Linked DNA regions of Homo sapiens. Each later gene encodes a partner of the first gene's protein in a complex. Each region holds a gene or a part of one and is shown in the gene's direction. Other genes may lie near its edges.

The links.
Region 2: YBX1 (region 1) and IGF2BP1 share a complex: the UniProt entries of both Homo sapiens proteins name them as parts of the coding region determinant (CRD)-mediated complex.
Region 3: YBX1 (region 1) and SYNCRIP share a complex: the UniProt entries of both Homo sapiens proteins name them as parts of the coding region determinant (CRD)-mediated complex.
Region 4: YBX1 (region 1) and HNRNPU share a complex: the UniProt entries of both Homo sapiens proteins name them as parts of the coding region determinant (CRD)-mediated complex.

What each region holds. Positions count from the first base shown.
Region 1 is NC_000001.11:42,699,394-42,704,329, forward strand, and holds the end of YBX1 (Y-box-binding protein 1), read left to right. Parts: intron 1-1,387; coding exon 1,388-1,622; 3' UTR 1,623-1,653; intron 1,654-2,587; 3' UTR 2,588-4,412; downstream 4,413-4,936. UniProt on the Homo sapiens protein: DNA- and RNA-binding protein involved in various processes, such as translational repression, RNA stabilization, mRNA splicing, DNA repair and transcription regulation.
Region 2 is NC_000017.11:49,042,385-49,049,384, forward strand, and holds part of IGF2BP1 (insulin-like growth factor 2 mRNA-binding protein 1), read left to right. Parts: intron 1-1,043; coding exon 1,044-1,166; intron 1,167-1,582; coding exon 1,583-1,702; intron 1,703-2,606; coding exon 2,607-2,681; intron 2,682-3,505; coding exon 3,506-3,637; intron 3,638-3,875; coding exon 3,876-3,989; intron 3,990-6,967; coding exon 6,968-7,000. UniProt on the Homo sapiens protein: RNA-binding factor that recruits target transcripts to cytoplasmic protein-RNA complexes (mRNPs). This transcript 'caging' into mRNPs allows mRNA transport and transient storage.
Region 3 is NC_000006.12:85,639,868-85,647,900, reverse strand, and holds the start of SYNCRIP (heterogeneous nuclear ribonucleoprotein Q), read left to right. Parts: upstream 1-5,014; 5' UTR 5,015-5,104; intron 5,105-6,449; 5' UTR 6,450-6,461; coding exon 6,462-6,609; intron 6,610-7,336; coding exon 7,337-7,455; intron 7,456-7,572; coding exon 7,573-7,680; intron 7,681-8,033. UniProt on the Homo sapiens protein: Heterogenous nuclear ribonucleoprotein (hnRNP) implicated in mRNA processing mechanisms. Component of the CRD-mediated complex that promotes MYC mRNA stability.
Region 4 is NC_000001.11:244,849,749-244,854,543, reverse strand, and holds the end of HNRNPU (heterogeneous nuclear ribonucleoprotein U), read left to right. Parts: intron 1-40; coding exon 41-94; 3' UTR 95-4,247; downstream 4,248-4,795. UniProt on the Homo sapiens protein: DNA- and RNA-binding protein involved in several cellular processes such as nuclear chromatin organization, telomere-length regulation, transcription, mRNA alternative splicing and stability, Xist-mediated transcriptional silencing and mitotic cell progression.

The sequences.
Region 1 (4,936 bases):
AGAAGTGAGTTCACCCAGCTTGACTCTGTGTTTCTAGCCATTTGGGCATCAGGCTCAGGTTGGGCAGAGAGTTGGATTTATCCAGATTTGGTTTATCCAGATCTGGTTTGATTTATCCAGATCTGGTTTATCCAGATGAAGACACTGGGGTAGGGATTGGTCATATGATTAGTGGTAGACTTTATACTTGGATAAAGAGGGGAGAAAAGGGGAAAATGAGGGTTGTTTTTTTTTTTTTAAATTGTTTTGTAGAAATGGAGTTGCACTGTGTTACTCAAGCAGTCTTGAACTCCTGCCCTCAAGTGATCCTCCCCAAGTGCTAGGATTACAGGTGTGAGCCACTGTGCCCAACCTTGGAGTGAGATGAATAGGTGATAGAATCGCTGTATTACAGGTCCTAGATTAAGAATGAGAAAACAATAAGGAATTACCTAAGAAAAATAGGAAGGTACATAATTGGAAAGTTGAGTGGTATAATTGAAAAAACCCAGGTAGAAAACAGCTGGACTGGGAGGTCAGTCTGAAAGCCCAGGTTATTAGAAGCTGTTACACTCGAACCTTAGTAATAACTGCAGTAAGAAAAAGATAGTAAATGGAGCAGAATCCAAAATAAGATGGAAAGCCTAGTTTTTAGAAACTGGGAGAGTTGATTTAGAAGCCACAATAAGGTTAGAACAGTCACCACTGTAGGGTTGCAGAGAAAAGTCAGAACAATTTTGTTGAAGATTCATCATGAGTTCCAAAAGATGTGGGGAAAGAGTTTTAGAATGTACAAAGGTAAATGTGAATTTATTCCCATGATGACTCATGGATACTAAAGGCCTGGGGCTTTCTGGAGTGCTCAGAGTATGGGCAGAGGAAAGGCCAGGAATCCATCATTTCTGAGCACTGGGGGAAAGAAAATCCCAAAATTTAGTATCTTTATCTTGGTGATTAAAAGACTCAAGCCTGTAATCCCAGCACTCTTTGGGAGGCCAAGGAGGGAGGATAGCTTGAGGTCAGGAATTCAAGACCAGCCTTGGAAACATAGCAACACATCGCTACTAAAAATCAGACATTAATGAGACGTGGGGGGCTTGCCTATAGTCCCAGTTACTCAGGAGTCTGAGGTGGGAAGATCACTTGAGCCTGGGAGATTGAGGCCACAGTGAGCTGTCATCATTCCATGGCACTTTAGTCTGGGCAACAAAGCAAGACTCTTCCCCCTACTCAGCATCCCCCCCCCCCCAAAAAAAAAAACCCATCTCTTTACACAAATTGCCTACAGACCACTTGATACAGAATGGGCCAGACATGGTGAGTTAGTTGTGAACCAACTGGTTACACTGGTGGGTGTGTTGAAGAGAGAAGGTTTTATCATTCTTAAGTTTGACACCGTTCATTGCAGGGGCCCTCCTCGCCAAAGACAGCCTAGAGAGGACGGCAATGAAGAAGATAAAGAAAATCAAGGAGATGAGACCCAAGGTCAGCAGCCACCTCAACGTCGGTACCGCCGCAACTTCAATTACCGACGCAGACGCCCAGAAAACCCTAAACCACAAGATGGCAAAGAGACAAAAGCAGCCGATCCACCAGCTGAGAATTCGTCCGCTCCCGAGGCTGAGCAGGGCGGGGCTGAGTAAATGCCGGCTTACCATCTCTACCATCATCCGGGTAAGCAAGCTTGGATGGCCATCCATTTATGGCAGTCGTGAGTGGTGACCATTTCGTTTTATTAATGCAAGAGTAGAAAAACCTCAGTTCCATCAGATAATGAAAGCCATGTTATTTATAATGTGTTCTGCCCTATTCTTAATTACCTAATATTTCATTTTAGGAATATTGAATATCAGAGTCATATTTGGCCACCCTTCAGCTAGTTCTCAATTCTGACACTGGAGACCTGTATTTTCATGAGTATTTTGAACTATTAGTGCTTTCTATCAACTTTTCTGAATGAATTTTATGATTTCACTAGTAAACAGAGGAAAGTTTTGCTAGCTGTATTCTGAGAAATATGTTAATTACATTATTATTTATGCATTATTTCAAAAAGGAAGTGGGGATAGCTGTTAGAATTAACCTAGATGGTGACAAATAGAGTCTGTTTGGAGAAAGTGGCAACATTAATATAATCTTTTAATCATTTCTAATTGTTTTTTTTTTTTGTTGGTTTATGTTGTTCCCGGAAAAAGACGAGAGTGTTTCGTGTCTAAAAAACTCCTAGAATGACACGTGGTTTATCATGGTTTATTTAAACTGCCTGTAGATTAATAATAATAATTCTCTGGCAGACCACATGATACAATTACGTTCTTGTTACTTTAGCTCATTAGCTCACTTGTTTTTATTACCCTTAATTCCAAAATTAAGGGATTCTTTTTCATTTCGCTTTTTACATGATATCGAGAGGTACGTGATTGTTGTTCCCTCCAAAATTAGCATTCAACCAGTGGTGCTTTTGGTTTTTTCCCGTTTACTATTTGCTGGATGGCAAGAGATCTGTTAATGTCTCCCAATACACAAGTAATGTAAACTAGGGCATGTACTACACTAAATGAAGATCACCATGAATTCTACATGATCATCTTTATTTTTTTCTTTACAGTTTAGTCATCCAACAAGAAGAAATATGAAATTCCAGCAATAAGAAATGAACAAAAGATTGGAGCTGAAGACCTAAAGTGCTTGCTTTTTGCCCGTTGACCAGATAAATAGAACTATCTGCATTATCTATGCAGCATGGGGTTTTTATTATTTTTACCTAAAGACGTCTCTTTTTGGTAATAACAAACGTGTTTTTTAAAAAAGCCTGGTTTTTCTCAATACGCCTTTAAAGGTTTTTAAATTGTTTCATATCTGGTCAAGTTGAGATTTTTAAGAACTTCATTTTTAATTTGTAATAAAAGTTTACAACTTGATTTTTTCAAAAAAGTCAACAAACTGCAAGCACCTGTTAATAAAGGTCTTAAATAATTGTCTTTGTGTAAATTTGTCTAGTTTTGCTTTAGTTTGTAAGTATTTAGCTATTTATAGGACCCTTAGCTTGACCCAGTCTACAAATAGATGATGCTCACTGGTAATTCCCTCAGGTAAAATGTCTCAAAATCTCTAATCCTTTAAGTGGCATGCCTGTGGGCCCATACTAAAAATTAGAAAATACATACTCTGATAACCTGGCCATTTTTCATTGAAGGATTTAGCTCATTTGTAAGAAAGACTTGAGTGTAGATTTTGGGTGGGTCCCTTTGGCTGTGAGGCATTGTTTAAAAGGGCATTGCTCTAGCCTAGACCGACCAGACTCTCATCCTGCTCCACTTAGTTTTGTCACCTTGGGAGAATTTGTTTCAGTGTGTCAATTGAAGATGCCAATTGAAGTGTTAGGACAACCTGTCACACTGCCTGGTGTGGTCATCAAATATTGGTTCAGCTCCTTATGTCCTAGAGATGGAAACAAGTAATATAAAACCCATGGGAAAGCTGCTTAGGAACATGGAGGTTGGTGAGCTTGTAATTATGTGGTTCTCAACACCTTAAATCCTAAGCCTAGTCTGGCTGATCTTTTCTCTTTTTGAGACGGAGTCTTGTTCTGTCATCAGGCTGGAGTACAGTGGCACAATCTTGGCTCACTGCAACCTCCACCTCTAGGTTTAAGCGATTCTCCTGCCTCGGCCACCTTAGTAGCTGGGAGTACAGGTGCGTGCCACCACACCCAGCTAATTTTTGTATTTTTAATAGAGATGGGGTTGCACTGTGTTAGCCAGGATGGTCTTGATCTCTTGACCTTGTGATCCGCCCGCCTCAGCCTCCCAAAGTGCTGGGATTACAGGTGTGAGCCACCGCACCTGGCCTCTCTGGCTTTTGTTTTCTAATGTTTTGTTAGATGTTCTTTGGCTTGCTTTGTGAAATAGTCATGTAGTTGATAGTGACTGCTGCCCCGAAACACTCCAGATCATCCTGGCCAGCTATCAGGGCCCAGGGGAAGCAGACAGTAGGGGTCGGGAGTAGGCCAGAGTGGCACATCAGGAATCCTGCAGTGCTGTGGAAGTCATCTCCTGCTTGGGACTAACTCTTTGCAGAGGACTTGATAAGAGACTACTCAAAAAAAATTTTTTTAACCCTACTTAGTGTAAATATCTGTACTGCAGAAGTGAGTTAGCCTATTTCTTGCTGGTGTTCATGAAAATACTGTGTTGGCAAGAGTGCAGTGGACCTGAAACTTCAACTGTTGGTAGCATCTAAACTGTTACTTACAACTGCAGACGCACACAGTCCCTGACTTAAACAGTGGTTTGACTTAGGGGCTTTTAGTGGGGTTACGGTTTCTACTGAATCAACATTGTTTTCATGGCATCACAGAGTTGAAAAATCATAAATGAAACCATTGTAAGTTGACTGCAGTGTTGCCAACATTAAATGCAGTTTCAACTTAATGATTTTCTGACTTGTGGTTTATGGGGACATTGACCCATCATAAATTGAAGAGCATCTGTATTAGGATATCATGGAAATGGGAAGACCAAAAACATTGGTTAAACATCCAATAATGTTAGAATGAGATTCTCGAAAACACATTGAGGAGGACAGTTGTTTGGGGGAATACAATCTTAGGTGCTAGTGTTGGAAACAGAACTACGTACATGTTTTTAGATACTGTCTCCTGTTCTGTTGCCCAGTATTTTGTGTACTTACGGATTATTTGTAAGGACTACAGAGGCTATACATCTCAAAAACTACCCAGAAAACTTGCAGCCAAGATCAAGGTTTAGAACCTGTTCTGCCAATCAGATACACCAACATGAGACCTGGAGACATTGCTAGGAAGCTATGCAAACTCCTTTTGCTAGCGAGGGTAGTCGCTGTGCTTTGGTGATGCTGCAGCAGCAATGGTTTCCTCCTATCTGCCTCACCTAGATGGTGACACTGAGCCTGGTTCCCCAGCCTTAGCAATTGTGAG
Region 2 (7,000 bases), on another chromosome or scaffold:
CTGGGTAGTACCCTCTGCTTATCCTTTCCTGAGTCTTAGCAACAGCAGCTTGTGGGGTGCAGGGTGATGGACATGTGCCCTGTGCCGTGTGGCCTTGGAGCTTTAGTTGATGCTTTTGGACTTCGACTATCAGAAATAGTATTTAAATAGTATTTAATTAGCAAGGATTCTTCACCTGGTTCCTAGAGTAGGGGTCCAATCTTGGGCTTTGAGTCCTGTGATTCCAAGTATGTGTACAATTTGTGTTTGTGTGCACTTTATTGAAATGAGGGGGTCCATCGTTTTCATCTGATTTTTATTTTATTTTTTTGAGACAGGGTCTTGGTATGTTGCCCAGGTTGGAGCACAATGGCGCAATCATAGCTTACTGCAGCCTTGACCCCCTGGGCTCAAGGAATACTCCTGCTTCAGCCTCCCAAGTACCTAGGAGACTACAGGTGTACACCACCATGCCCAGCTAATTTTTTAAAATTTTATTTTTTGGAAACAGGGTCTTGCTGTGTCACCCAGGTTGGTCTAGAACTCCTGGGCTCAAGCGATTCTCCTACCTTGGCCTCCCAAAGTACTAGGATTATAAGCATGAGCCACTGCACACAACTCATCTGATTTTTAAAGGAGACTTGGGGTTGGGGTACAGGACCAAAAATGTTTAGAATCAGAGTCCTAGAAGTCCAATGGAGCTCTGTCTCCACGCCTTTTTCTCATATAGGGGGTTATAGTATAGTGTCATGGGTCTATCGTCTGTCTCCAGCAGTCTGAACAGCCAGAGAGGAAGGACTCCTGAGGGTGTACAACTGTTTGGCATTTCTGGTTGCAATTGCTAGCCGTTAGTCCAGTGAGAACATCATATCACTTAAAATTCCACACCCGAAGTGTGTAGGTGAGAGTGTATGAAAAGCACAGAATAGGCTTTTGTGGAAAAGTATGTAATTCATGTTTTTGGCCCACTTGCCTCTGGGGCTACTCGCCTTTTATACAGCGGGGGTCACACACAAGCCCCTGTCAGGGTGTGCTGACTCTTCCTCCTCATCTTTCTTCCCCAGCTGCAGTCTCACCTGATCCCTGGCCTGAACCTGGCTGCTGTAGGTCTTTTCCCAGCTTCATCCAGCGCAGTCCCGCCGCCTCCCAGCAGCGTTACTGGGGCTGCTCCCTATAGCTCCTTTATGGTAGGTGGAAGATCTTATTACACGGGATCCCTGGGCCCATATGTGGCCTCCCTTAAGGGGGACTCAGCATGCTCTGGGAGTTGGATGCTTGGCAAGTTTGCAGGGAGAGGGAAGGAAGGTCTCAGAGGCATCCCTCCTCTCCAGTGCTCCTAGCCACTGGCTCTGAGGCTCCCAAATGTCTGCCTAGAATGCTCCCGGGGCATAGACAGCACTGTTCCCTTACTCTCTCCTGGCCTCTTCCCTTTAGCCCTACTGGGCATAGGAAGAGCTAAAGAGCTCACAGCATCCCTTGGCAGCCCAGGGTGGCGGTTTGGTGCCTGTACTCCTTCCTCCTTGAGGATGCAAGGCAGGGGAGTGGAGGGTTTCTGGGCCATGCTACTTGGGCCCCCTGGTAACAACGCCTCCTATCCTGGCAGCAGGCTCCCGAGCAGGAGATGGTGCAGGTGTTTATCCCCGCCCAGGCAGTGGGCGCCATCATCGGCAAGAAGGGGCAGCACATCAAACAGCTCTCCCGGTTTGCCAGCGCCTCCATCAAGGTGATCTGCTCTGTGGGTCTTCCTGTTTCTGGAAAGGGAGGGGTCTCTGCTTTTATCACTCTGCACTTTCTCCCATATTCCCCCTACTCATTTGAGAATTCTGTGTGTCATATGAGGGACCTTTCCCCCATGGAATCGAAGTCCTCTTTGTTTTTGATCTTGCTTGGTCCCCATGGGATGGCTTCAGTGCTTCTGGGTTTTCAGGCTGGGCAGGGGCAGGGTTATAACATAGAAAGAGAACTTAGGTTCTAACACAAACTGATGGGTTCAAATCCAAGATCCATCTCATCACCCCTTCCCCCAATACACTATATGATCTGAGCCTCACTTTCCTCGTCAGTACAATATTATGAGGCTACGCAGCCAAAGCCCTTCGCTCACATACTAACACCAAGTAAGTGTTAGTTGTCTGTCACCTTCCCTGGCCAAGGTCCAGGGGAGAGAGAAGGGAGAATCTGTCATAGTGAAACAAGGATGCTGTTAGAGTTTCACAAACCTAAATCCGGTTGCTTTAGTTGTCTTAAAAGCTTTGAGCAAAAACCTTGATTGTTCTCCAGTGGAGGTGCAGTCACTGCCCTCTATCCGTTGGTCATTTCATTTGTGTCCTTGCCTGTTGGCAAGACTCCACTGAAACCTCTCTGGGAGATTGGTAGGTGGAGGGGGCAGGAGGCCCTACTTAGAAAGTGTCATTGAAGCCAATCCTTCTAACTGACCACCTCTGCCCTCCTAATAATTCTGGTGTGAAGGCGTAATGATGTGGGCTTCAGGGTCTTTGTTCTTCCTCCCCTAAGTCTTCAGAATGGGTAGTTGGGAGTAAGGGTGGTAGAAGGGGAACTGGATGAAGTGGACATGGTGGGGGTCTTCCCATAGAGGGTCCCTCATTGACTAGCTTTTTGCTTTTTAGATTGCACCACCCGAAACACCTGACTCCAAAGTTCGTATGGTTATCATCACTGGACCGCCAGAGGCCCAATTCAAGGTTTTGGTCTTTATTGTTTTCCAAGCTGAACATGGAGGAATTGAGGTTGGGTATTTCCCCTGAGGTAGGAAAAAGGCTGGGTCAGTTTCCCGTTAGCTGTCAAGTCCTCATCACATCTTTAAGCCTTCCATGCAGGATAAAGGGCTGCAGAGCTATTTTCAAATTGACATCAAACTGGATTTCTGTTGACTTCGTCTTCCCTTTTTAAGGTCCACAGAAGAAGATGGGAAGGAAAGAAGTCTGAGGGCATCTTATTTGCACTCTGCTGTCATTTCTAAGGAAGGCCTTTAATGCCAAATTCTCATCTTTTATGTCCCCACTAAATCCTAAGGTTCTTGAACTTCTGATCAGACAGCCAAAAAATGAACCATCAACTAGCTTAACCTAACATATGTGAGGATAGAGGACTGGGACAGCTCTCTGGGCCACTGGAGAGTCAGACAGGCCTGCCCTCTGTGTGACTTGATTAGTTGCCATTCAGGGCCTTGAAATGCTGGTCAGTGCCACGTCCAGATTCCATAGGTCTGGTTTGTAGCTTGTGAATTAGATTCCTCTGGGAACTATTTTTTCCCTTGGGAAGTGTTTATTCAATTACTCATAACTCATAATCTCCACCCAGGGTCTCCAGTATGATAGCTAAGCAGAAGGAATGCTGACAAGCTGCCCACCTGAGCCTTGCCCTTCACCTGCCTTAGATGGTTAGCCCGCCTAGGATGGGGAGGGCCTGTGGGCCAGAAAATATGGGCTGGAGCTTCCTTTTTCCCACTTTTCTCTTTTGTCACAGATATATGAACCACTGATTAACAATTACCTCCTCTTCTCAGGCTCAGGGAAGAATCTATGGCAAACTCAAGGAGGAGAACTTCTTTGGTCCCAAGGAGGAAGTGAAGCTGGAGACCCACATACGTGTGCCAGCATCAGCAGCTGGCCGGGTCATTGGCAAAGGTGGAAAAACGGTGAGCTGTGAGGGCCAGGTTGAAAGCCCTGGGCCTTGGTCTCCAATCTCAGCAGCTCTCTCTGGTCTCCTGTACTGCTCAACCTCAGGACTCCTGATTTGCTCATTTACTTGATTCTACTCCCCAAGCTCAGGTCCTGACTCTTCCAGGTTCTCCCCACTAGTCACCCTGGCTCCTCCCTCCAACCCCACCCATGCTTTCTTGATGGCACCCTGAGCTCCTCTCTGGCCACCCCCAGGTGAACGAGTTGCAGAATTTGACGGCAGCTGAGGTGGTAGTACCAAGAGACCAGACCCCTGATGAGAACGACCAGGTCATCGTGAAAATCATCGGACATTTCTATGCCAGTCAGGTACATATGGTGCTCCCCCATTGAGGGAGGGCTGCAGGAGCCCAGGGAGCAGAGAAGCAGAGACTCTATAGAGGTTGACCTTCATGACGTTGACAAGTCCTGGGGCCTCAGCCACATCTGCCTGCCTCTAGGCTAGGTTATTGCCCTCTTTCAGGTGCAGAAGTGGGATGTGTAGATGACATATTACCTCTTATTACTCTCTAGGAAAAGTGATTTGACAAGTTTAATGTACATATATTGTGTATAACATTATATATATAAATAACATATATATGAATATATATTATATGTAAATATATATATATATGTTCTACGTTAGTCCCTCCCTAACCCCTTTCTGCACTGGTTAAGAAAGAAGATTAGTTTTGTTCATGGAATAATGATAACAGTACTAACACCCTGGATTGATGGCATTTTTGAAATGTAGTCCCTCTGCCTTTCGCAGAATGGCTGTTCTCTCCCTGGTTTCTGCTCTTCCACCCTCCCATTCCTTTCCCAGAACTCATCATTGCCGTTCAGCACTCGGACAGGCTCCAGAGCATGGAAGGGAAGGCCAATATCAGGTTCAAATTTTGCTGAACCTCAGCAAGGCAAGCAAACAGGTGGTTGGCAGCTAATGGTGTTTTCCTAAAGTCTTAAATCCATCATTGTTAGAACTGGAAAGGAACTTTGGAGACTGTTGATCACAGTTCCTACAATTCATAGAAGATATCCAGATCTTAGCAGGCTTGTGGTCTGCTGGGGCTGCTAGAGCAATTGGGGCAAACTGGCTCTTGGTTTTTTGGCTTCCAGTGCCCATATAGTATAGCATCAAGTATGAAGGTTTTGGATCCAGGGAGCTTTGACCTCAAACTTCACATACATAGCCTTTCTGCTATGTGACCTTGGATAAGTAACTTTCTCTGATAACCCTTTGAGAAGTATTAACAAGAGGCTTTAGTTACATCTCAACTATATATATATATAAAATAACAAAAAAGTATTAATAAGAGCCATAATAATAATAATATCTAAGATTTATCGATGCCTTTGTATACCCAGCACTGTTTTATGTGGCTTATGTATATTAACTCATTTAATTCCCACAACAATTTCATTTTATAAATGAAGCTTAAGAGGGTAAATGTGAATCTTTAATTCAGCGTTTTTTTTTTAAAGAGAGTAAAGGATACCTCCAAAGATGCATAAAGCCAGGATATATTAATATTAAACACTGAAGCAATTTTAGCTGATCAGAATGAGAATTAAATGAAAAGCTATGTAAAACATCAAGCCAGGGTTGATGGAGTTGGACCTCTTATTGACTTACACATTATTTTCCCAACCTAGATCAACTTCCTCTTTTTTTTTTTTTTTTTGTGACAGGGTCTCGCTCTGCCATCCAGGCTGGAGGGCAGTGGTGTGACCACAGCTCACTGCAGCCTCTACCTCCCAGGCTCAAGTGATCCTCCCACCTCAGGCCCCCCAAGTAGCTGGGACTACAGGCAGGTACCACCACGCTCAGCTAATTTTTGTATTTTTTTGTAGTGATGAGGTTTCACCATGTGGCCCAGGCTGGTTTCAAACTCCTAGGCTCAAGTGATGTCACTGCTTCAGCCTCCCAAAGTGCTGGGATTACAGGCATGAGCCACAATGCCCAGCCTCAGCTGCTTCTTTAACCAGGAAAGGAAGCACTCATTTATGGAAAGGAGACATTCTGGTCTTCATTCTATGAAGTGAATCCCATTTTGCAGTTTATTTCCTTTATAAAACTTTATTCTTAGGGAAGAACCTTTTAAGAAGGAAATAATAAAAGATTGGGTATTTTGTCCATTTTTACAGTGAAGCTTATGTATTTATGCTTTTTGACTAACCCATATCTGGACTTTATTTTTTATTTTTACTTTTTTTTTTTTTTGAGATGGAGTCTCGCTGTGTTGTCCAGGGTGGAGTGCAGTGGCACAATCTTAGTTCACTGCAACTTCCGCCTCCCCTGTTCTAGTGATTCTCCTGCCTCAGCCACTCAAGTAGCTGGGATTACAGGCGCACGTCACCACGCTCGGCTAATTTTTGTATTTTTAATAAAGATGGGGTTTCACCGTGTTGGCCAGTCTGCTCTCGAACTCCTGACCTCAGGTGATTCACCCGCCTCAGCTCCCCAAAGCGCTAGGATTACAGGCATGAGCCACCGTGCACCTGGCCATATCTAGACATATTATTCCTTTTCCTGGGGTATTAAAATGAAGCGTGGATTTGTGATGATGTCTTCTAAGTTACGACCCTCTACAACAGGAGTCCCCAAACCCCGGGCCACGGACTGGTACCGGGCCACACAGCAGGAGGTGAGCGGCAGACGAGTGGGCATTACCTCCTGAGCCCCGCTTCCTGTCAGATCAGGGCGGCATTAGATTCTCATGGGAGGGCTAACCCTGTTGTGAAGTGCTCGAGGGATGCGCAGTGCATGTGAAGGATCTAGGTTGCACACTCCTTATGAGAATCTACTGCATGCTGATTTGAGGTTTCATCCTGAAACCACTTCCCCACCCCCACCTCCATCCGTGGAAGAAAAATTGTTTTCCATGAAACCAGTTCCTGGTGCCAGAACAGTTGGGGACCACTGCTCTGCAATATGTAATATATTTCTGCCTAGAAACTCTAGGCATTCTGTTTTGCGTTTGGTAATGTTTATCAACTTTGTCAAGTTTTAAATTCTGATGAATGGATTGATACTACTGTTTCTCCTTCCTTCAAGTCCCCCAACCCCATCTCCCACTTAACACCCACCACGTTTGCTGTATTTTCCAGGGGATACTCAGGCTCCACTGGAGGCAAAGAAATGTAAGGTCACCCCAACCCTCATTCTTCCTCTTTATCTTTCTTCTGAGTCCTGTGTGACCTGTTCTGTTTATTGCCTGTGTCTGGACCTGATGACCTCTCTTCCGTGGAAGGCTGTCTCCTTGGAGGTCTCACACCCACTCTCTTGCCTGTTCTTGCTGCAGATGGCTCAACGGAAGATCCGAGACATCCTGGCC
Region 3 (8,033 bases), on another chromosome or scaffold:
CATCCTCTTTGGTGGGCTATGTGTTTAGATTTTTTGCCCATTAAATTTTTTTTTTTGCCAGGCATGGTGGCTCATGCTTTTAATCCCAGCATTTTGGGAGGCTGAGGCGGGTGGATCACTGAGGTCAGGAGTTCTAGACCAGCCTGTCCAAAATGGTGAAACTCTGTCTCTACTGAAAATACAAAAATTAGCCAGACCTGGTGGCAGAAGCCTGTAATCCCAGCTACTCAGGAGGCTGAGGCACGAGAATTGCTTGAACCCAGGAGGTGGAGGTTGCAGTGAGCCAAGATTATGCCACTGCATGCCAGCCTGGGTGACAGAGCAAGACTCCTTCTCAAAACAAAACAAAACAAAACAAAAAAAACAAAACATTTTTTTTTTGTTTTTTATTTGCCTAACACTTGATATCAACGTTTTTGCCAATTTTTCAATTAGGTTGTGTGTTTTCTTATTGTTGAGTTTTAAGAATTCTTTGTATATTTTATTGAATAACAGCCTTTTATCAGATATGTGTTTTGCAAAGATTATTTTTTTTCCCTAGTCTGCGGCTTGTCTTTTCATTCTCTAGACAGTGTCTTTCTTGGAACAAAAGTTTTTAATTTTTGATAGGGCAGGCTTTTTATTACTATGAAAATAAGATGTGAGAGATAGTGCCGCCGGGCGCGGTGGCTCACGCCTATAATCCCAGCACTTTGGGAGGCTGCGACGGGCGGATCATGAGGTCAGGAGATTGAGACCATCCTGGCTAACACGGTGAAACCCCGTCTCTACTAAAAATACAAAAAAATTAGCTGGGCGTGGTGGCGGGCACCTGTAGTCCCAGCTACTCCGGAGGCTGAGGCAGGAGAATGGCGTGAACCTGGGAGGCGGAGCTTGCAGTGAGCCGAGATTGCACCACCGTACTCTAGCCTGGGCAACAGAGCAAGACTCCATCTCAAAAAAAAAGATGTGAGAGATAGTGCAAAAATTTTCTTGATTACTAGAAAGATTAGGTTGAATGGCTTCCATGGTCTCTTTCAACACTAGCTTTTTATGGTTCTATGGAAAAAGTAATGGTGTGCTGTGAATTTTTACCCTGTGAATTGAAGGGTTCCCTGGCCCATTATAAAATTAATATATGTTAATGGCAGGAAGTTTAGAAAATGCAGTAAAGAAGAGAAGAAAATATGCAAAAAACAAAACAAAACAAACAAACAAACAAAAAACAGTGTGGCAGTGTGGCATTGACTGGGTGGAAGAATTTTGGATAAGTAAAAAATCCAAACAGGCCTGCCTACATTCCTCTCTTTCATTAGTTGCCAACTCAACAGGGCTGCATCTTCTCACTGTTTCAAAGCTTACATGGACGAAAAGACAGCAATGAAACTAATGAATACTCTGTCGGGAGCAGTGGGTCACGCCTGTAATCCCAGCACTTTGGGAGGCCGAGGAGGGTGGATTACCTGAGGTCAGGAGTTCGAGACCAGCCTGGCCAACATGGTGAAACTCTGTCTCTACTAAAAACACAAAAATTAGCTTGGTGTGGTGGTGGGTGCTTGTAATCCCAGCTACTCGTGAGGCTGAGGCAGGAGACTCGCTTGAATCCAGGAGGTGGAGGTTGCAGTGTGCTGAGATCCCGCCACTGCACTCCAGCCCGGGCAACAGTGTGAGACTCCGTCTCAAAAACAAAAAACCAAAAAACGAGCCCTGGCGCAGTGGCTCACGCCTGTAATCCCAGCACTTTGGGAGGCTGAGGCGGGCTGATCATGAGGTCAGGAGTTCGAGACCAGCCTGGCAAACATAGTGAAACTCCCAACTCTACTAAAAATACAAAAGAATTAGCCGGCCATGGTGGCGGGCGCCTGTAATCCCAGGTATTTGGGAGGCTGAGGCAAGGAGAATCACTTGAACCTGGGAGGCGGAGGTTGCAGTGAGCCGAGATCACGTACTGCATTCCAGCCCGGGCGACAGTGCGAGACTCCGTCTCAAATAAAAAGAAATGCCAGAATCAAGGGAAGGCCAGGCTGAAGCCATAAAGTGGCTGAGATGAGCTGGGGAGACAGGTGGGACAGATCTTAGAGAGCTTTGTTGATCTAGTTAAGGATTTTGGCTGTTGTTCTAAGTGTAATTGGAAGCTAATGAAGGGTTTTAAGCAGACACGCCATAGGATCTTACTTGCAATTAAGATAGAGAAGGTCAAGGGAGGGAGAGAGCCTACACAGGAGACAGAGAGTCATACAGAAAGACAGATGACTTGGGCTTTGAACAGATTAGGACAGCTGTAAGAGTGGATGAATCAGGAGGCTATGCCATTAGTACAGGTGGTAGATGATGGTGGCTTTGCCTGGGTGGTTGCAACATAGAGATAAATGGAGATATATTTGGGAGACAGAATTGATAGGACTTGATTAACTGATATGGCAGTGTAGAGAAGGAAGTGCCTTGAATGATCCGCTCCAGCAATTCATGTGGGGGATGTTAATTGAGATGGGAACTCTGTAGACGGAAGACTGGGGGAAGATCACGTGCTCAGTTTCTTGAAATGCCCATCTGGAGTGCCAGAAAGCCCACATAAACATTGAGGGCGTGGCTAGAGAAAGGAATTAGATGTCAGAGAACAGCTAGAGATTTTAATTTGGGAGCTTTGCCCAGGTTAAGGCACTTTAAAAAATTTTTTTTAATACCCAGGAAGGTCTAAACAAAGTGTTACATGTTTCAGACTCATTTTTATTCTTTTTTTTTTTGAGACGGAGTCTCGCTCTGTCGTCCTGGCTGGAGTGCAGTGGCGCGATCTCCGCTCACTGCAAGCTCCGCCTCCCGGGTTAACGCCATTCTCCTGCCTCAGCCTCCAGGGTAGCTGGGACTACAGGCGCCCGCCACCACGCCTGGCTAATTTTTTTGTATTTTTAGTAGAGACGGGGTTTCACCGTGTTAGCCAGGATGGTCTCGATCTCCTGACCTTGTGATCCGCCCGCCTCGGCCTTCCAAAGTGCTGGGATTACAGGCGTGAGCCACCGCGCCCGGCCAATTTTTATTCTTGTTTAATCCATGGTATGACTCTTATTTTCATAGTTTTCTATTAAACATTTTGTTTTTCATGTATATCATTAACCACGACCTCTGCATTGTGAACAAAAATCCCTATGGCTGAAGCAGCTGAATATCACATATGTTTGATAGTAAGGAATCTGGGGTGGTGGAGATCTCAAATCCTTACTAAACAGGTTGGCTATGTGGTGCTTTGGCTAAAACATACTTCATATCTGATCCAAGTAGCTATGAAAATAATCTAGCATTTTATGTGCTTGTGCACTTTGAAGAGTGTTTATCTAACTTTTCCTCAAACCACTGATTTGTTATCATAGCACAGAGCTCATCTGGGGAACCAGTAAGCTCTTAAAAATAAGCTTTTTAATCAAAAGGACATTGTTTCTATTTTTCATTACAGCTGCCCTGGATAAAATTAGTATCCATATCGCGTCTGTAATTCAAATGCCTTTGTCTTGTCTTTCTTGTACCTAGTAAACGATTATAAAGGAAACGTCATTTCACAGAAGATTTAGTTGCCAAGGTTTTTTTTAAAAGAAACACAGACATTTTTCTCAAAGTTGTTCTAACCACGCAGCTTTGTGCTGTTTCAAGTTGCTCAAACTGTGCCAGGAGGAAGCCCTTAACTGCTTAAAAGGCCAGGGACTGAAACGGAGTATTGCACAACCCTTCACCACCGGGCGGTTTCGCTTCCAAATCTGGCCTTCGTGTCATCCCAAGGCAGGAGCCGCTCCTCGCTCCACTGGAGCCAGCCCCGTTCCCCCTTCAAAAGCAGCCGGGGTTTCCGCGTCCAAGCCTGGGGCGCCCCTCCCTTCGCCGAAGGTTCCCGTGAAAGCGGAGCCGCGCGGCTGCGAGGAGGGCCCACTGTCCAGTTGGGGAGATCGAGTCTCCAAGGGCGACTCTCGCACTCGAGTACCGCCAGTCCGGCGGACCAAAGGTCCGCGGGTCTCCGCGCCGCTCCCCTCCCCCTTGGCCCCATTGTCTGCCTCGCCCCGCCCCGGGGGACACGTGCGCCTGCAGCTTCCCGAGGAGGAGAGCGCGGGGCGGTGGCAGCGGCGTGGACACCGCCTGGAACGGCTACGCGGCCGCGGAGCCGGGGGCGGGGGCCGGGCGCGCACAGACCGGTGGGTGCCCTCCGGGAAGCGGCAGTCGCACTCAGCGCCCACAGCACTCTGCCCCGCCAGCCCCGGACCGGGCAGGGATGGGGCGGGCGGGAGCTCGGTGGGGGTGGCGTGCGCATGGTGTCGCGGGGAGGGGGTGGGGTGGGGCGGGGTGGGGAGATGCCAGTCTCCTGACAAAGGAAAACGAGTGGGACACGCTGAGCCGGCCCGCCCCGCCTGGAGGGGAGAGGGAGGGGGAGTGTCGGGAGGGGAAGGGGCGGGCCTTTCATTCAGTCTCGGCCCCTCGGCCGCCACCGTCGGAGCGGAAGGGCGGGGTCTTGTGCCTCCCCCACCCCCAACCCAAGGGGTGAGGAGCGGGGAAGGCGGCGCGGCGTGGGGGCGGAGCCCGCGGGCGCGCGTCCCGAGGCGTAGGCTACGTTGTCACGTCAGCGCGGGAGAGAGAAAGAGAGGAGCCGACTCGGCAGGGACTGGGGGACCGGGCCGAGAGTGCGAGCGAGCGAGGGAGGGAGTGAGGGAGCGTGCGAGCCAGAAGGGGAAAGGCGGCCACTCGTGCCTGAGCGACCGCAGAGGGGAGTGGGAGCAGTGGGGTAAAGGAGCGGGGGGCGGGAATAAGAAAGGCCGAGAGAAGGCGGACAGAGGCTAGTGGTGGTGGTGGTGGTAGGGGGAGAAGGAGGAGCTGGAGGAGGGCAGGGGCTGAGGGAGTGAGTGAAGCGGACGCGCGAGGGAGGGGAGGGAAGGGAAGGGAAGGGAAGGGGGGGTCACGCGGGGGCGCGCGCGCGCACCGGGAGCGCGCTCGGAGGCGAGTGGAACTGGATCGGGTTTGCTGCCAGCGGCGTGAGCTTCGGCCGCCATTTTACAACAGCTCCACTCGCGCCGGACACAGGGAGCAGCGAGCACGCGTTTCCCGCAACCCGATACCATCGGACAGGATTTCTCCGCCTCAGCCCAACGGGGAGGTAACGACTGCCAGAACCTGGGTGTGGGAGGGGAGCTCCATGACATTGTGGAGTGAGCTGGGGGAGGGTGGCGCGGGTAGAAACCGGCTTTTCTGGAAAATGGATTCCAATGGGGAGAAGAGCACGTTGACTGGGGCTGCCTGGGAGTAGGCCGCGGCCCGCGCCGCCACTTCCTCCTTTCCATGTGCTGCTGCGGTTCGGGCTTTGTCTGCGGCGCTTTGGGAGGAGGCGCCTCCACGGTCCCGTGGCCCGCACGGACCGCGAGCGGCTTCAGAGTTGGTGCTGTCGTGGCGGTCGCCGCGGCGCGGGAGTGGGCGGAGAGGAGTGGGTCTTGTCCTGCAGCCGTGCGGCGAGCTTGGGCGGTGCTCACGGTCCCGCGGGCGTTGAGCCGTCCGCTGAACGCCCTCACGCTGCTGGGTTGCCGGGCAGGCGTCGCAGTCACTGCACGGAAGGGTAAGGGGTGGGGACCTGCACAGCGCGCCACGGGTCACGTCTCGGCCGGGCGGGCGGCCGGGGGTCGTCGGCGCCCGGGGAGCGCCAGGGGCGGAGAGCCATGTGTCACGGCGGAGACGGCGGCGCTGGGGGGCGGGGAGAGCCTGTGGCCTGGCGCCGCCGGTGCCTCGGTGTTCAGGGGAGAGATTGTGCTGCTGCAGCTTTCTGGGGGCTCCGACCGCGGCTTCGGGTTGATGTTGGGAACCAGTGATGGTCGTCTTGGTTTGGGATTCGTTGGGTTGCCGTTGAAGGAAGTTGTAGGACATTGGAAGGCGCAGAGCACGTGTTTCTAATGGGCTCCTGGCGGCCGCAGTGGTGAGACTGCCGCTCTGGGTGCGGAGTCAGGGGCGGGCTTTGGGGTGCGGGGTTAAAGGGTGGAGAAATTGGGTGGTGGGAAGGTGGCTTGTATGAGCGCTTTGTTCTTCGCTGGCTGTTGTTACCGATCTATAAGCGGCAGGCGGGAAAAGCGCGCACTTTGGGGGTTTATCTTTGAGAGAGAGGAGCCCAGTTTTGCTTTCTCCACACACACCTCATTTTCCGAACGGGCACAGCTGCATGTGGCACGCTGGCTCGTACCCGTGCTGATTGGGCTCTATTTGTAATATGGTTTTTCCTAGGGAGTGTTAGCAGGTGAGTCAGGGGTGGTGCTGAGGAAGAATATGGTGAATCGGTCCTTCTGTGCCCTGTGCTCCAAATCTGGCTTGTCAGGCGATAGTGACTGTAAGGCTTTTTTAAAGGGAGGTATAGGCTAGCTGGTGTAGTAAATGGTAGAGAAAGTAAAGATGGGGCTCTCATATTGTCTTGTATTCTTTTTGAAGATCCTAGTTTAATTTTGCTTATTGCGTTTGAACAGATCTCTGGAAACATGGCTACAGAACATGTTAATGGAAATGGTACTGAAGAGCCCATGGATACTACTTCTGCAGTTATCCATTCAGAAAATTTTCAGACATTGCTTGATGCTGGTTTACCACAGAAAGTTGCTGAAAAACTAGATGAAATTTACGTTGCAGGTAAGAACTAACACTTGCAAAATTACATTATGAAATTTTTCTATTGGATTTCTGGCTTTGAGCTAAAATAGCAACTTTTTGTGGTTTCCAATAAGTGTGGGTACTGGAGTTTTGCTTGTTGTGATAGTTGGTTAATTTAAGTTTGAAGTAGAGGTTAAGATGTATAGAGGGAGGGAAGAAGAGAAGGTTAGGAGCTAAAGGCTGGCTTGCATGCTGGCCTGATGGATAAGTATATGATAGTAGCAACAGCTGCTAAATGTTGGGAACAGGCCATGTGACTTTTTTGAGTATTTTTATAGTAGGATTCTTCTTAAATAACTTGGTAACTGTAGACTTGTTTTCTTGTCTTTCTGGTGCGGCTGTTAACTTTTTCTGGTGGTATTTGAAATTGAGTAGAGGTTCAGTTGTCATGCTTGGTACTTTGTTGGTTGATTCTAGGATTCGTAAGTCTGTATACTGTAAAAATACCGTAGTGTTCAGAGTTATCAGACTTTGGAGATAAAAGATGTAAAAGAAGTTAGCTGATTATTGTAAGTGTGGTTGGTAGGGCATATTTAGTTCAGGATTCAGTTCAGAGTGGCTGAAGTGTGTGTTTTTTTTTTTTCAGGTATAGATGAGGGGAGTAGAAGAATTGTAAAGGCACACATGTACCTGTATTGCCAACATAGTCTTCTCTAAAAAATCTTTTCTAAAAATATTAAAAGCTGATAACTTTTATTTTTTTCAGGGCTAGTTGCACATAGTGATTTAGATGAAAGAGCTATTGAAGCTTTAAAAGAATTCAATGAAGACGGTGCATTGGCAGTTCTTCAACAGTTTAAAGACAGTGATCTCTCTCATGTTCAGGTAATGTTAATGTCAATGTGAAAATTAAAAAATTTGAGTAGTTTTGATACTATCTGCTGAATTTTATTAGACTCAGATATGGTTATTGTTAAATATTAATGGAACATTTTTTTGCAGAACAAAAGTGCCTTTTTATGTGGAGTCATGAAGACTTACAGGCAGAGAGAAAAACAAGGGACCAAAGTAGCAGATTCTAGTAAAGGACCAGATGAGGCAAAAATTAAGGTATGTCTTTCTATACTCCCTTTAGTTTTAAAGTCATTTTAACTGTTTCCTAATTTTGGTAAATATTCCTTGGGTATGAAATGGATGTATGTTAGATGTTGAGATAATTCATCAATCTTTCCTAATTCCTTTTTTTAAGTTTTTTTAAACTATTTGTTTCTAAAGCAATTTGCTGTGAAGTTTATCATGTTATCCAGCTACTGATGTTTAAATCTGTTCTATTGGTAGTCCTAGTATAAAGAAACACACCCATGATACCTCTAGAATATTTTTTGAAAAGCTGCAAAGCCAGCTTATTGACAGTTGAAATACTGATGGAGAATGTACATTTGGCAACTGGCTTTTTTTTTTAG
Region 4 (4,795 bases), about 200 Mb from region 1:
ATTGATGTTTTTTCTTTAAAAACAAAATTTTCTCTTACAGCAATTCTGGGGTCAGAAGCCATGGAGTCAGCATTATCACCAAGGATATTATTGAATACCCAAATAAAACGAACTGATACATATTTCTCCAAAACCTTCACAAGAAGTCGACTGTTTTCTTTAGTAGGCTAACTTTTTAAACATTCCACAAGAGGAAGTGCCTGCGGGTTCCTTTTTTAGAAGCTTTGTGGGTTGATTTTTTTTCTTTTCTTTTTTGTACATTTTTAATTGCAGTTTAAAAGTGAATCGTAAGAGAACCTCAGCATTGTGCACGATAAGAGAATGTGTCAGTATTTCAGGGTTCTACATTTTATCTGTAAAATGTGACTTTTTTTTTTTTTTATCACAACAGAAGTAAAATGTTGCTTTGTACCTGGTGTCTTTTATTAAGAATTTACTCCCCCCATTTCTCACAGAGAATAACAGTCGGGAGTCATTGTCACAATATAATAGAAATGTTAGCAACCAGATTCATGTAAGGACTAAGTGGTCCTCATGAATTGCATTAAGACTCTGTACTGCTCATATTACACTCCATCCTCTCTGTAGTTTGCTGGGTAGTGGAGGGGGTAAGCTAAATCATAGTTTCTGACAATAACTGGGAAGGTTTTTTCTTAAAATAACAATGGAATTGGTATAATTGGGATTGAAAACTAAAACTTGGAACTAAGATAGAGAAGATGGAGTGTATGTAGAAGGGCTGTTAAAAATGTAAAACTTGGTTGCATTATTTGTGGAGGCTCAAACTTGTGAAGGTTAATACCATAATTTTTCCATTTGTTCTGCATTTTGATTCTGAAAAGAAAGCTGGCTTTGCCCATTTCTTATTAAAAAAACTTGTTGTAAATCCAGTTGTCTAATGGGATCTATATGAAGTTAGCCATGTCTGTATGCCCTTCTCCCACAAAATACTGTATAACTAGTGTGCTTGTAGTAGTTAACTCCACCATCTTTGTAAGCTAATGAAATTGTGAGTCACCCATTTATATCTTAATTTTTAATCATGTCAGTTCTTGAATGGGTATCTCCTTAGCCTGCTGATTTCTTTTTCTTTCTAAAGAAAGTGGGTGGAGAAATTAATTTAGACGTTTGTTTGCAATAAAAAGAATTCATTTTACTCTTGTTTTGGGATTCTCGCCATCAAGGTTCAAAATCCCTTTATATAACTCCCAAGAGGAGAAATTTATTAAGTGTGTGCTTTCTGGACAGCTTATTCTTTACTCTGCATAGAACATTTAGGTTTTAAAAACTTAAATGTATACTGACAATTGATACATAATTATGAAGTAAAGTTGAATTCTTCCCTTCCCCTCCCCCCCAGACAACTTTTAACATATTTAATGAGGGGAAAAGGTACTGGCTGGGAGAAGTTAACACTGAGTTTATCATCTTTACAGAATGCTAATGCTGTCCTCAACTGATTATTTTATATACATATATATGATACATGAAACTCTGGGATCAGATGCTTTTAGAAGCCATCATGCAAGCCAGTCATTGATGTCACTGCTACACAACACTGCTAACTTGACTGTAGCTATGTAATAACATTAGATCCCCTAATTGTAATTATATTGGGTTTGCACAGAACACTTTAATCTTCCCCTCACCAATGTGAAGTGAGGAATCAGGAGTCAAACTGTAGAACTAAAATTTGACTTCAGTCTAGCGTTTCCTTGGTGTTTTTAGGTTGCTTTGGTAAGTTTAGGTTTGCTATATTTCTGATTGCTTAGAATTTTGTTTTAGCCCTTTAAAATCAGATCATAAATATGAATTCATACTTCTAAGGAATTTTCTTGCTATAAGCTGGAGTTTAGGTGATGTATAGGTTCAGTTGAGACATTTTTGGAACAGGCAAATCCTTAGTTAACATAAGATATTTAACAGTTGAAGATAGTGTCATGGATTTTTATCTTTTTTAGCAAGTAATGCTAAGAACCACTGGCCTGAGCTACTACTCTTCAGTATACATTATTAGGATTGCATAGACTTACTAGAGGAACAGTTTCAGGTTTTGATGCTAATCAGTGTTGTGTCCTAAAGTTGTCCTTTGTGCCTTTAAAAAGTTTTGGATATATCTTCTAGTTTAAAATTGCTTATTAAGGAATTCATTTTATAATTGCAGTGGGAAAGTAATGGTCAAGTAACACTAGGTAGACTATCATGCCTGTTTAGCCCAGAGAATTTGGGGGGAGAGAGAATAGATAAAAATGGCACCCAGAAAAATGTTAAAATCTTTAGTCAAGACTAGAATTAATACAATTGTCTACACTTGTATGGCAGAAATAACCTTATAAAGTGTTTAAGGAATTCAGAGAAGGGAATGTACCAAATAAGCAACAGGGAGAAAATTAGGTAAGAAGTAAGATACGAACGAGAAACCTGATTTATTGCTCATCCTTCCCTTGCCTCCCTAATGGCAAGCAAAACTCTGAACATCTGAAAAGGATGTAGTTCTGGACAAATCCTGACTACCCAGAGGAAACTCACTGTGAGATTGCTGTTGATTTGAAGGGTGCTTTCACTAAGGTTATATTTTAAAGTAGAATAACACATGCTGAGTGTAAACTGGCTTTGGATTGGTCAGCTGCAGTAGTACAAAAACAGCATAGAATTTGAGAAAACTAAAACTGCTATGAGATAGCTATGAGAAAACTAAAACTGCTATGAGATAGAAATGATGTAAAATTATGTGGAAAGTTTTCCCTCATATACTCACATACAGCCTTTGAAGGGCTCTGGCTCTGACCGGTTGATGGCCTTGAGCGAGATGAAATCATGAAATTGAGTCAAATCAATTTGACATTGAAATGACAAGAGGAAACTCTTAAATACATAAAAACAAGCTCTCATTTGCCTAGGATAGATACTGTCTTAAAAATAAAGACTGAACCTAGATGTTCTGAGCACTAGCAACAAGGTATTTTAACAAGTTTAAAGGAATTCTCTGAAAAAGTTATAAAATTATTCTAGGAAACATAACCATAATAGTGTTTTAAGGGACTTTCACCTGGGGATTTTATATTCATGAACAGAGTGTATTCTGTATTTAAAATGTCTCATTTGTGGGAATTGGATGACATGTTTTTTGATAAATTTATTCACAATATAAATTGACTTTTTATTCTAGGACCATGTGAATAATGGGTTCCATTGCACAAATACAAATATTTTAATAGCTTCTTAGGCAGTGGTGTAGACATCTTGGATATAAATAATTGTAGATCTTGTATATTTGATTTTTAAAAAACTAGAATAAACAGAGAGGCATAAACATATCTTAGAGTCCAAGTGGTAGTGTTTAGCATTGGATATAATAAATGGATGTTTTACAAAGTGTTTCCATAATTCTCTTCCTATACATAAATGTCTTGTTTTCAAAAGTGGATGGAACTTGGCTGGGTGTGGTGGCTCACGCCTGTAATCCTAGCACTTTGGGAGGCCAAGGCGGGAGGATCACTTGAGCTCAGGAGTTTGAGACCATCCTGGGCAACATAGTGAGACCTGGTCTCTTGAAAAAAAAAAAGTGGATGGAACTTGTAGCAGAGAATTTTATCTACTTCTCAACCTGCTTCAGAATACCCATTTGAGATGTTCCCCTGGAAAGATGAACACAATACTGCATCTGAAGCCATTTCTTCCCACCTAACATTCTTAAAATGATTAGAGTCTAAACTTTGTCATTCATTCCTAATTCTGGAGCTCTGAGGTTGAGGTGTTCAGAGTTTGGTGAATAATTGGGTTTAAGTTTTAACATTTTAGTAATAATAAAAGCAAACACATACATGTTAAGGCCTGACAATAGGTTGCAATACCCATGCATTGGGACTCATACCCAGCATAAATGGTGAGGGACTGAACATTAGTGCTTTGAGCAAGAATTGGTTAACTACCTGAGATCTCTAAAACAGTAATTTGAATTACTAATACATAAACCACAAGTCTCTTCGAATTGTTAATTGCCTAAATTTACCCTAAAACTTAGTTAACGCTGCAGTGCCTTTATTAAAGCTTTTTTTTGGGGGGGGGTGTGGGCACAGCTACTCCATAACTTTAAATTTTAAAGCATGAAGGTGATCTAGCTAGTGTTAGTGCTTGAGTTGGTAGTTACATAGGCTGCTCTTGAATCGTCCTGTTTTCTTTGCCTAGTATTAGCACCACAGGTACATATTTGTAAAATAAGCATTAAAAGTACTTTGTCCAGCTAACTCATGTTGGAGTGACCTTTGTCTTACTAACCTTTGTTACTAAACTTGTTAATTAGAATAAGCCCTTGAGAATTTGGAAGTGAGCTATACTACTAATGTAGTATATATCTCTTGAGTGTGTTGGAGTAGATGAAAAACCAGGGGTCCCCAAGGGTATATTTTTGAAATTGAACAGAAACAATTCATCTTAATATTTAGTTTTCATTATGTTTAGCTTAATATGTGTGCTAGTTTATTTGGCGTCACACTTATGTCAATCTCAAGTCATGCAGAAATAGCACAGTCTCAGAAAAGAGGTTAGGTGGGAAATAGATGATATGCTTACATTATTGAGCAGGACTATGCTTTCACATCCTAACCAATTGACTAAAAATATAAATGATTGAAGTAATTTTCATTAGTTGCCCCAGGAGTCTTTAATAATAGTTTTAAGGGATAGTAGATTGGACATAGATAGATGGGTTATTCATAATGGATATTCATAATGGATATTCATAATGTTAACCTAGAATTATTCAGAAAATATAACACCTATGTAGTAGAATCTA